3 linked regions of the Homo sapiens genome follow. The protein of the gene in region 1 purifies or fractionates together with the protein of each later gene. This does not show direct contact. Each region holds a gene or a part of one and is shown in the gene's direction. Other genes may lie near its edges. The genes, in order: SLC16A5, BMPR2 and ROBO1.

Region 1 (3,656 bases):
GGCCGAGGCGGTCAGATCACCTGAGGTCGGGAGTTTGAGACCAGCCTGACCAACATGGAGAAACCCTGTCTCTACTGAAAATACAAAATTAGCTGGGCGTGGTGGCGGGTGCCTGTAATCCCAGCTACTCAGGAGGCTGAGGCAGGAGAATCTCTTGAACCCAGGAGGCAGAGGTTGCGGTGAGCTGAGATGGTGCCATTGCACTCCAGCCTGGGCAACAAGAGTGAAACTGTCTCAAAAAAAAAAAAAGACACCAGGAACAAGAGGGGGACAAGGCAGGAGCCCCAGCTCTCCCGGGACTCCCTGCAGAGAGGAGGTTGCTAAGTGGGGGTGAGGGAGGAAGGCAGCCCCTGTCTGCCCCTTCTCCTGGCTCTGTCACCATAGGCCTCAGAGGCCCATGTTCCTGGCTGGCTTTTCCAGGAGTGTGACTGCCTCACCCTGACCCCAGCGTTGGGAGCAGGGCAGAGGGAGGGTTCTCTGCAGTCGCCGTGGACACAGGGACCTGCCCTCAGCTCCTGGGAGCTCTCCAGGGAGACTGCAGAGACCCCGGCCTCGGAGGGGCCCGGTGGACAGCAGCCCGAGCTGATGGCCCACAGGCCTCTGCAGGCGTGTGTCTGCTGGCCGCAGCTGCCCATCTCCCCGGCTACCTCCTGGCTACTCCCTCCACTTGCCACCAGCAGCCTGCCTATTATTCCAGGTCCTGCCCTCAAACTGGGAGGGAGGTGAGGCTCGGAGAAAGCGCCACCCTCCTGGGTGAGCTCTGAATCTGCCACATGGCCTCTGGCCTGCAGGGTTGGGGCAGGGAGTGGGAATCCCAGAGGGCTGCTTCTCACACAGGCAGAGCAGGGTTCCTGGGCCAGGGGCTAGGAACCGGGCACCCGGCGGGGAACCTACTCCCCAGCTGACTTGCGGCTCACCACCCCCAGCAGGCATCTCAGCATCTCCATCAGCATGGGATTCCTGGCTGGCCATCTCTCTCATGTACACATACACGTGTATGAGCCCGTGCTCATTCAGAGTACTGTAGACATTTTATTTTATGTTTATTTATTTATTTGCTTATTTTTGAGACAGAGTCTCACTCTGTCACCTGGGCTGGAGTGCAGTGGCATGATCACAGCCTATTGCAGCCTTAACCTCTCAAGCTCAAGCGATCCTGCCACCTCAGCCTCCCGAGTAGCTGGGACCACAGGTGTGCACCACCACACCCAGCTAATTTTTTTTTTTTTTAGATGGAGTCTCGCTCTGTTGCCCAGGCTGGAGTGCAGTGGTGCAATCTCAGCTCGCTGTAACCTCCGCCTTCCAGGTTCAAGCGATTCTCCTGCCTCAGCCTCCTGAGTAGCTGGGACTACAGGTGCGCACCACCATGCCTGGCTAATTTTTTGTATTTTTAGTAGAGACGGGGTTTCACCGTGTTAGCCAGGATGGTCTCGATCTCCTGACCTCATGATCTGCTGGCCTTGGCCTCCCAAAGTGCTGGGATTACAGGTGTGAGCCACCACGCCCAGACCATACCCAGCTAATTTTTTTACTTTTTGTAGAGACGGGGTCTCACTATGTTGCTCAGGCTGGTCTCAAACTCCTGGGCTCAAGTGATCTACCTGCCTGGGCCTCTCAAAATGCTGGGATTACAGACATGAGCCACGGCACCTGACCACAGTATTGTAGAAATTTTTAAACACGATGAATCATGGATACTTTCACTGATCCTTTCAAGTGCCCCTGCCCCTACCTACGCCTTTTAGAGGTAAGGAAAGCAAGCAGGCACAGAACACAAGACCTGCCCAAGGCTGAAGAGTGAGTTCACGGCAGAGGAAACACCCTGTGTCCCGCCCGGCCACACCACCCTCAGCTATGCAGCTCTGGCCTGCAGCCCAGTCCCCACCCCCACCCCTGTGACTAAGGGCTTTCCCCAATGTCAACTTCCCTAAGTCAGGCCAGAGTCTCTGGCGTGAGGAAGCTCTGTGGGTCAGTCCTCTCCAGAGCCACCTCCCCCTCTACAGGGGCAGAGACGCCGGGCCACCAGCCTCTGCTTGATTATGTCTGCGACGGGCTGCTCACTTAGTCTGTCACTTGCTTTTTTCTTTTTTTTTTTTTTCGGAGATGGAGCCTCCCTCTCTCACCCAGGCTGGAGTGTAGTGGCACAGTCTCGGCTCACTGCAACCTCCACCTCCCGGGTTCAAGCGATTCTCCTGCCTCAGCCTCCCTAGTAGCTTGGAATTACAGGCATGCGCCACCACACCTGGCTAATTTTTGTATTTTTAGTAGAGATGGGGTTTTACCATGTTAGCCAGGCTGGTCTCGAACTCCTGACTTCAGGCGATCCACCTGCCTCGGCCTCCCAAAGTGCTGGGATTACAGGCGTGAGCCACCACGCATGGCCACTCCATCACTTTTTTTTTTTTTTTTTTTTTTTGAGATGTAGTTTCACTCTGTCGCCCAGGATGGAGCGCATCGGGTTCTGCCTCCCAGGTTCAAGCGATTCTCCTGCCTCAGCCTCCCAAGTAGCTGGGATTACAGGCACGCACCACCATGCCTGGCTAATTTTTGTATTTTTAGTAGAGATGGGGTTTCACCATGTTGGTCAGGCTGGTCTCGAACTCCTGACCTTAAGTGATCCACCCACCTCGGCCTCCCAAAGTACTGGGATTACAGGCGTGAGCCACCACACCCAGCCTACTCTGTCACTTTTATACTCACACTGGCTCACACCACACATCCCCCCTCCACCGCAGACACACACAAGCATCTCATGCGCACACACTTCCCTGTCCCTTTAGTTGCACTCTCGGAGAGTAAGTTAGAGAAGCTCCACATGTGCTTGGGTGAATGGGGCCCCTGTGAGGTGCCAAGGAGCAGTCTGCAGCTCTTTTCTATTTTTTTGGGGTGTGGATTGGTGAGAAAGCAGCTGGGAGCCAGGCAAGGAACAGGCCCCCCTCCACATTGAGCCAAACCTCTAGGTGCAGACTTTGGTGGTGCTGGAGGTGGTGTGGGAGGGGAGAACCTACCCTGCCTGATTGTCTGCAGAGGCCAGTGCAAGGAGGCGCAGAGGGGCCCAGGGTTCCCCTCAGCTGTAGGGCTGGGAAGGTGGTGGGAGGGTGGGAGGGATCTAGCCAGTCTTCCTGAGGATGTTGGGTGTGGGGATGGGGCAGGTAAAACAGGATCTGAAGGTGCACACTGTAGTCTAGATGTCCTGGAACACTGCCCCGACTCCTCCCACCAACAGACCCCCAGCGAAGTGGGGGAGGTAAACTCATGAACCAATCCTGTTTCACCCGGATAGAATGAGCAGCCTCAGGTCTGTGTAGTTCAGGGTCTTGCTCCACCTTTCAGGGAATCCTCATCAGGGTCAAACATCGCCCATTCTGAATCCTCACTTTGTAGGGGAAAAAATTGAGGCACGGAGAGGGATCAGGCTTTGCTCAGGCCACATGGCCAGTCCATGGCAGGTGGGTATCAGAATCCAGGCCTGCTCGTGCCCTTGAAACCACCTGGCTAGTTCCAGCTGGAACTGCCCTCTCCAGCCACTCTCCTCCTCTCCCGCCACCTCCTCATTCAGCTGCTACCTGCTGGCTGTCTTCTCCCACAGGGCCCCTGTGCAGCATCCTGGTGGGACGCTTCGGCTGCCGAGTGACCGTGATGCTGGGGGGCGTGCT
Region 2 (3,617 bases), on another chromosome or scaffold:
CAAGTCCCTATGAAGGAAGGGCTGCTATCAAACCTACCTTTTTTGAGCAAACTGAGACTAAACTTCTCTCTTTTCAAAATTGTGTTATCTTCCTTAATCCTATTTTCATAATTTTTCCTTTTGCCAGTTTTTCACATTATCTTTGATATGTGAGCAACATTTATTATTTACATTAGAGTATACCTTTTAGTAATAAAATGACTTGAAATCATATTATTTTTAAAAGCCCTTTGCTTCTTTCATTACTTATAATCTCCTCTAAAACAACCTCTGCATGTTTTTTTTAAATAAAGCACTTTCTGTCAAATAATGGACTTTTTTCTAAACAGAAATTATTTTCTATTAATTTGCAAACTGATGATTTCACTTTTTTTTACTTTTTTTTCGATTATCAGAGTACTTAGTAAATGTTATATAGTTTAGTTCTAAGATAGTTCCAGGGATTAAAAGGTTAAGAGGAAAACACAAATCACCAAATTTCTGATTTATGTTTTTATCTCCTGAACAATATTTTCTCACTCATATTCCTCTATCTTATCACTTAGCTAAAGACAGCCTAAATTTCCCAATTTTCTGTCCAAAATATTTGTGATTTACTTGTATATAAGCCTTCTCATTTGCCATGTGCTGTGATCTTACAAGTTAGATGTTACTATACCTACCATTTATTCAGCTGGATTGCTGAACACAGTTCTGGATTCATAGAATTAAGAATATCTTGTTAGTGCCCAGGATTTCCACGTTTTGTGTTTTATTGGCCCTTTTCTTTATTCAGCCCCTTAATCTATTTTCAGTCTTCTGGCACGTAATTTTTTTCACAGTTATTATTCTTCTATTAACAAATTATTTTTATCTTTCCTAGTACATTTTCACTTAGTTCTCTTGCCCTTAAATATCTTTCACATGCATTTTAGGATATTCTTTTCAAATATTTGTAGGACAACTTTGAATCAAAATAAATTATGTTCCTTCTCCAATTTGAAGCATTGAGGATAAATGACCATTTGAGGTCTAACTGATCTTTTCCTGCCAGAAGAGTTATCTTACGTTCTGCTATATTTGTATTTGGGCCAGTTGATTGTAGGTTGTCCAACATTTTTTAATATTGGGAAAATTATGATAAAATGCTTTAAAAATTAATATGCCAGATTAAAATAACTGAATAGTTTACTATTTCATTCAAGCATGTTTAAAACAAATAATTTCCTTTCACCAGTTTTTCTTAGTAAACTCCTGAAAAAGTAGGAAAGGTGGAAAGTATATATCATTTTTATAAATTTTAAATTGTACATCAGACTTTTAAAATCTGTAATATACAAGCAAGCAAAATTATTTTAAATGACTTAATTGTATGCTAATACTCATCTGATAATAAATGCTTCTTAAAGTTGACATTTAACTGCTATCACAAAGTTTTATATGTAGAAAAGTGGGGTCCTTTTGAATAAAAGATCATTCAACTAAAAATATTAAAATTTATTTCACTGGATGGTAATGTAACCTTAAAAGCATCATAATAGGTAAAGTCTAATATTAGTTCCCTTAACAAAATCCTAACTGTATACCAGAATTAGGTCACTGAAAGAACTTGATTTGAATTACGTTTAGACAAAAATGATTTAATTGTAAATTCTTAAAACTTTCTAAATGCATAATTGGCAAAAAAAAAAACCCACTGTTACCAGTGTAGGAAGTTACAAGAAGGCACATACTGAATGCTGAAGTATACATATGCTATTTCTCTTAAACCTCAGAGCAACCATATGAGCATTGTAATTAATATTCCCATTTTACAGATGAGGAAACTGAAGCTAAGAGAAGCTAAGTAATATGCCCAAGGTCCACATCTAGTAACAGACAAAGCTGGGATTTCAGTCTATGTCTGCCTCTCTCCACATCTCTTTCATCCATACCACACTGCCTACATGCCATATGACAGGATGTGTAATGGGCTAACGTTTATTTAAAAAGTTCAGGCCAGGTGCAGTGGCTTATGCCTATAATCCCCGCACTTTGGGAGGCCGAGCCGGGTGGATCATGAGGTCAGACGTTCAACACCAGCCTGGCCAAGATGGTGAAACCCCGTCTCTATTAAAAATATTTTTTAAAAATTAACTGAGCGTGGTGGTGGGCGCCTGTAGTCCCAGCTACTCAGGAGGCTAAGGCAGGAGAATCTCTTGAACCCGAGAGGTGGAGGTTGCAGTGAGCTGAGATCGCGCCACTGCACTGCAGCCTAGGCGACAGAGCAAGACTGCCTCAAAAAAAAAACATAAAAATTCAGTCACTATACTCTGGCACAATTTTCATTTGTATATGAGCCAAACCACATACCTTAATGATTTGGGAAGTTAGGCAAATATGAGATATGTAGACATATCTATGCTGATTGTTGCTTGAGAAATAATTACTAATTCTAGACAAAACTCAATCCTGTATCTTCCATCATGAATCTTAAAATCATTTCACTTCACTCCTAACATTTCTTACATTGCAGAACTAATGGTAAAGTAAATTTTACGGAAAAAGTTAAGATAGCTTTGGGAACAGAGACCTTTCCCTAAATTGATTCCATAGCAGATTTGGGGGAATTAACAAAGAATTTCAGTCTCATCAATCCTTTGAATCCATCTTCAAAACTTCTGCTTTTAATAACTTTAGAAAATTTACTAATCTATAGAACTAATTGAGTAGGATATAGGAAGGATACAAGGATATAATGTCCTTTTTATAAAAGTTTAGTATAGCTTCTTTACATGTATCCACTTGTTCCAGAAAATGTGCATTGGTTCTGAATGTGAAAATATTTAAAGAGAGAAAGGAACACTCAAGTAAGTGTGGGCTTCAGTGGGAATTATCACAAAACATTGGCAAGTATTTTTATTTAAATTATTTTCAAATTTGACTTCTACAGCCAAGTGGAATTGGTAGGCTGTAGCTGTTACACTGAAATTTCTAGTCTTTGTAAGTGCCTCCTGAAAGTCATTTAAAATGGAAAAATATTTCAATGAGCTTTTCCTTTTTTCATATTTATGGACATGAATATTTTATTGGAGATCATTAACTCCTAGAATTTGAGATTATATTTCCATACAACATTTTATAAAGTTATGTTGAACTTACTACCTGTTATGTGCAGGTTATTATGTAACTATTCACAGATTGCTTCATATATTGCTTTATCTTCCCATCTAACTTCTTAAAGTTAAAATCCGGACACACATGTTGATTATCTAGACCAGTCATTCTGGAAATTGTAACACTCCCACATAAACCCCAGGAGACTTTTTCAGAATGCAATGTTTCTAAATGTACTGTTACTGGCAGTTTACTCTCCAGCATATAAGGTTGCATTTTAACTTTTAGATTATGAACTGTGCAAACTTTACCCAAAACTATCTTGCATGATTCCCTCCTAAATATATTCCTTGATTAAGTAAATCTGGCAAATCACTGTTTGAGCTAGTTACATAAAATTTGTTATCAAGAGAAGGCTTTTCTACAAGTTTCCAGATTAACATAAAGAAAAGAGGGAATCACAGGGCATTTAAGTGCACCTTCCCATTACTTTCCTTAAATCACCTCATAGTTAGGCTGGGCGCGGTGGCTCACGCCTGTAA
Region 3 (3,656 bases), on another chromosome or scaffold:
CATTTAAGGATTTACTTTCACAGGGCATCATATCCCATGCCTGCTCTTTCAGGACTTTATTGTTTTGATTTTTCTTCTTTTTTTATGTCAAGATCAGACGAGCTCCTGAGGCATATGAAAGAATAGTCCTGACAGCAATAAACATGAATTTCAGTTGCTTTATCTCCTAGTGTGGGTGGTTCCTTTGGAGTATTGGATCAGCATCACAGTTCACTTTAAGTGCCACAACAGTTAATATGTTGTGCTGCTTTGTGACTGTTGTGACTTGGTTCCTGCAATTGCCAGGGCAAGATGACAACATTCTTTCTTTATCAAATGTTACTTGAAGATAGTTATTAGCTTGAGCAGAAGTAGATGGGTTTATTATCCTGCTGCTGATTTCAAAGTTGAACATGTAACCTATGTTTGCCTTCTGACATTCAGTTTTTAAAAGGGAGCGAGAGTGTTCGTTCCAGCTTGAGTTTGGCTTTGTACTTCTTAAACTGCCTTAAGTTACAAGTTTTAAAACCCGGAAAAGTCAGTAGTTTAAGAAAAAAATTCTATGATGCCTATCCTTTTTCTGTTGATCTCATATATCCATATAGTTAAATATATAAGTAAAATATGAAATAGCAAGAATAGGCATTGGTTAAACTTTATCAGCCTTATTATATAACTTATTAAACATAAAGATATATCTTAGCCATAAATATTAACGCTCTAAATTTGAAGAATTGTATGCCTTACCTTAGGAATTATTGTCCCTGAGACTGATGATAATATATGCTAATGCAATTAAATATTTCTTATTATACCATTAGAACAATCATATAAAATCTTTTTTTCTATATTGATGTAATATTTTCCTTCACATTCAATAAAAATATATTCAACTAAGGGGAAGTTTCTGGTTAGTGAATTTTAATGCAGTTATCCATATTCATGGATCATATACAAACCTGTAATTGCTTTTCCAGCCCAGTGAGTTCTTGATTTTTCCAAATATTTATTTTTTGTCTGCCTTCTCAGCTGGGTGATACTGGTCGGTACACCTGCATTGCATCAACCCCCAGTGGTGAAGCAACATGGAGTGCTTACATTGAAGTTCAAGGTAAAGTAAATGGTGTGTTTCCCTTAAAGTGAAGCTTAAAATGCAGTTGTTTACTTACTGGGATATTGATGAAGTAAATGTCCTCTTCCCTGAGTAGGTGTATGAATATGTTATCTGCATTTATCCGCTTATCTGTGTATGTGTAAACATCTTTTATTTTGGCCTTTTTCCTGCTTTTTAGAATTTGGAGTTCCAGTTCAGCCTCCAAGACCTACTGACCCAAATTTAATCCCTAGTGCCCCATCAAAACCTGAAGTGACAGATGTCAGCAGAAATACAGTCACATTATCGTGGCAACCAAATTTGAATTCAGGAGCAACTCCAACATCTTATATTATAGAAGCCTTCAGGTAGAGTGAAGGAGATGCTTCCTAGTTGTTCTTTTTTGATTCTCCATTAAATACGCATGTTCTAACCTGTGTGTCTATCCTTAGCCATGCATCTGGTAGCAGCTGGCAGACCGTAGCAGAGAATGTGAAAACAGAAACATCTGCCATTAAAGGACTCAAACCTAATGCAATTTACCTTTTCCTTGTGAGGGCAGCTAATGCATATGGAATTAGTGATCCAAGCCAAATATCAGATCCAGTGAAAACACAAGGTAAATATTGATTTACTTAAACCTGTGACACCTACTTATCCTTAGATGTTATAATTGCACTGACAAATCACTTGTGCTACATGCTAGAATTGTACATTTACAGTGTGTTGTTCAAGTTGCCCAAGTTGCTTAATTAATTTTTAATATACAAACACAATGTCTACAAACTTTATTATTTTCTGGACTAAGCATACCAACATAAGATGGATTAACAAAGAGAACTGTTTCTCATAAAATTACAAATATATCAAGACAAAAATATTACGTGAGGAGATGGAAAGTAGAATGATGGTTACCAGAGGCTGGGAAGGGTAGTAGGGTGGCTGTGGGGAGGGTGGGGATGGTTAACGGGTACAAAAAAAAGAATAGTTAGATCTAATGAATAAGATCTAGTATTAGATAGCAACAAGGTGACTGCAGTCAATAATAATTTATTGTACATTTTTAAATAAAGTATAACTGGAATGTTTGTAACACAAACAAAGGATAAATGATTGAGGTGATAGATACCCCATTTACCCTGATGTGATTATTATGCCCTGTATGCCTATATCAAAATACCTCATGTACCCATAAATATATACACCTGTTAGTACCCATAAATTTTAAAAATATGTGAATATTTGTGTATTCTATTCAATTTCCTGAATTTTAAATATGGTAACATGTAGGTGTACAATCTTAATCATATTATAATTGTATTTAAAATTAACCAAATTTTATTTATTTATAAGTTCAGTACTCACAACCTTCTGGATGAATTTTTAGATTACAACCCTAATCAAATAATACTCTCTTGAGATCACATAAATATGAGAGATATCTGGATACCTTTTATTTTTGGAAAAAAATCACGTCATTGTAAATAAAATGTGCTTGTTTTTATATTAGTAAAGAAAGGTAATTCTAGAGGGGAGTGATTCGAACTATAAAATTATTTTCTCAACATACAGAGGGATAGTGTTTCTATCTTAAGGGAACAAAGGAAAAAAGAAAAAAAAATAGACTTGGTTATTTTAATAGAAACAAGTTATACACAAGATGACTGAGACTTAAAGTCCTTTGCTGCTGGTTTGGGAGAGGGGTCTGCCAGCCATGTTGCTGTTTTGTTACTTCAAGTATGTACAGAAACAGTCTTTTTGGAAGCACTTTTTGTTTCAGAATTTGCAGAAAAAGCACACCAAGTTGTAGAACATGCCCACGTTTGTCTCTTGTGTGAATGTAACACACCCATAGCTCATATTTGCTATTATGAATCACCTCTCCAGGAGCTTTACTATACTTGCAGCCTGCCTTAAGGCAGTCTGAGGTTTTTGATATTAGATACACATTTGTAAAGAATGTAGACCCAATGATAGCTATAAAATGAATTTAAACTTTTGTCCCCAGTACAGTGGTCTCCAGCCAGTAGACTCTAACTGAAAGGTTTTGATGACTAGAGCTTAACACCGTTTTGTCCTGTACTCACATGCATGATTCTGGAATATGTAACCTCATTTGTAAGTGAGCAGTAAGTTAGCATTCTGTCTGAACATTCATTTAGTCTTTTTAACATTTCTGTCAATTTGCCTTTGCATATGCATAGCTAGTGGAACAATGTATTAGTCTCTTCTCACGCTGCTAATAAAGAACTTCCCCGAGACTGGGCAGTTTATAAAGGAAAGAGGTTTAATTGACTCACAGTTCAGCATGGCTGGGGAAGCCTCAGAAAACTTACAATCATGGCAGAAGGGGAAAGAAACACGTCCCGGTTCACATGGTGGCAGCAAGAGGTGCCGAGCAAAAGTGAGCAAAGCCCCTTATAAAACCATCGGGTCTCCTGAGAACTCACTCACTATCACGAGAACAGCAGCACGGGGTAACTACTCCATGATTCAGTTACCTCCTACCGAGACCCTCCCGTGACACATGGGGATTAGGAGAACTACAGTTCAAGATGAGATTTGGGTGAGGACACAGCCAAAC

The links.
Region 2: the proteins of SLC16A5 (region 1) and BMPR2 purify together in Homo sapiens (affinity purification with mass spectrometry; one large-scale study listed by BioGRID and IntAct). This does not show direct contact.
Region 3: the proteins of SLC16A5 (region 1) and ROBO1 purify together in Homo sapiens (affinity purification with mass spectrometry; one large-scale study listed by BioGRID and IntAct). This does not show direct contact.

Annotation. Positions count from the first base shown.
Region 1 is NC_000017.11:75,094,449-75,098,104, forward strand, and holds part of SLC16A5 (monocarboxylate transporter 6), read left to right. Parts: intron 1-3,589; coding exon 3,590-3,656. UniProt on the Homo sapiens protein: Proton-linked monocarboxylate transporter.
Region 2 is NC_000002.12:202,561,177-202,564,793, forward strand, and holds part of BMPR2 (bone morphogenetic protein receptor type-2 precursor), read left to right. Parts: 3' UTR 1-3,617. UniProt on the Homo sapiens protein: On ligand binding, forms a receptor complex consisting of two type II and two type I transmembrane serine/threonine kinases.
Region 3 is NC_000003.12:78,665,918-78,669,573, reverse strand, and holds part of ROBO1 (roundabout homolog 1 isoform a precursor), read left to right. Parts: intron 1-1,008; coding exon 1,009-1,090; intron 1,091-1,271; coding exon 1,272-1,440; intron 1,441-1,524; coding exon 1,525-1,691; intron 1,692-3,656. UniProt on the Homo sapiens protein: Receptor for SLIT1 and SLIT2 that mediates cellular responses to molecular guidance cues in cellular migration, including axonal navigation at the ventral midline of the neural tube and projection of axons to different regions during neuronal development.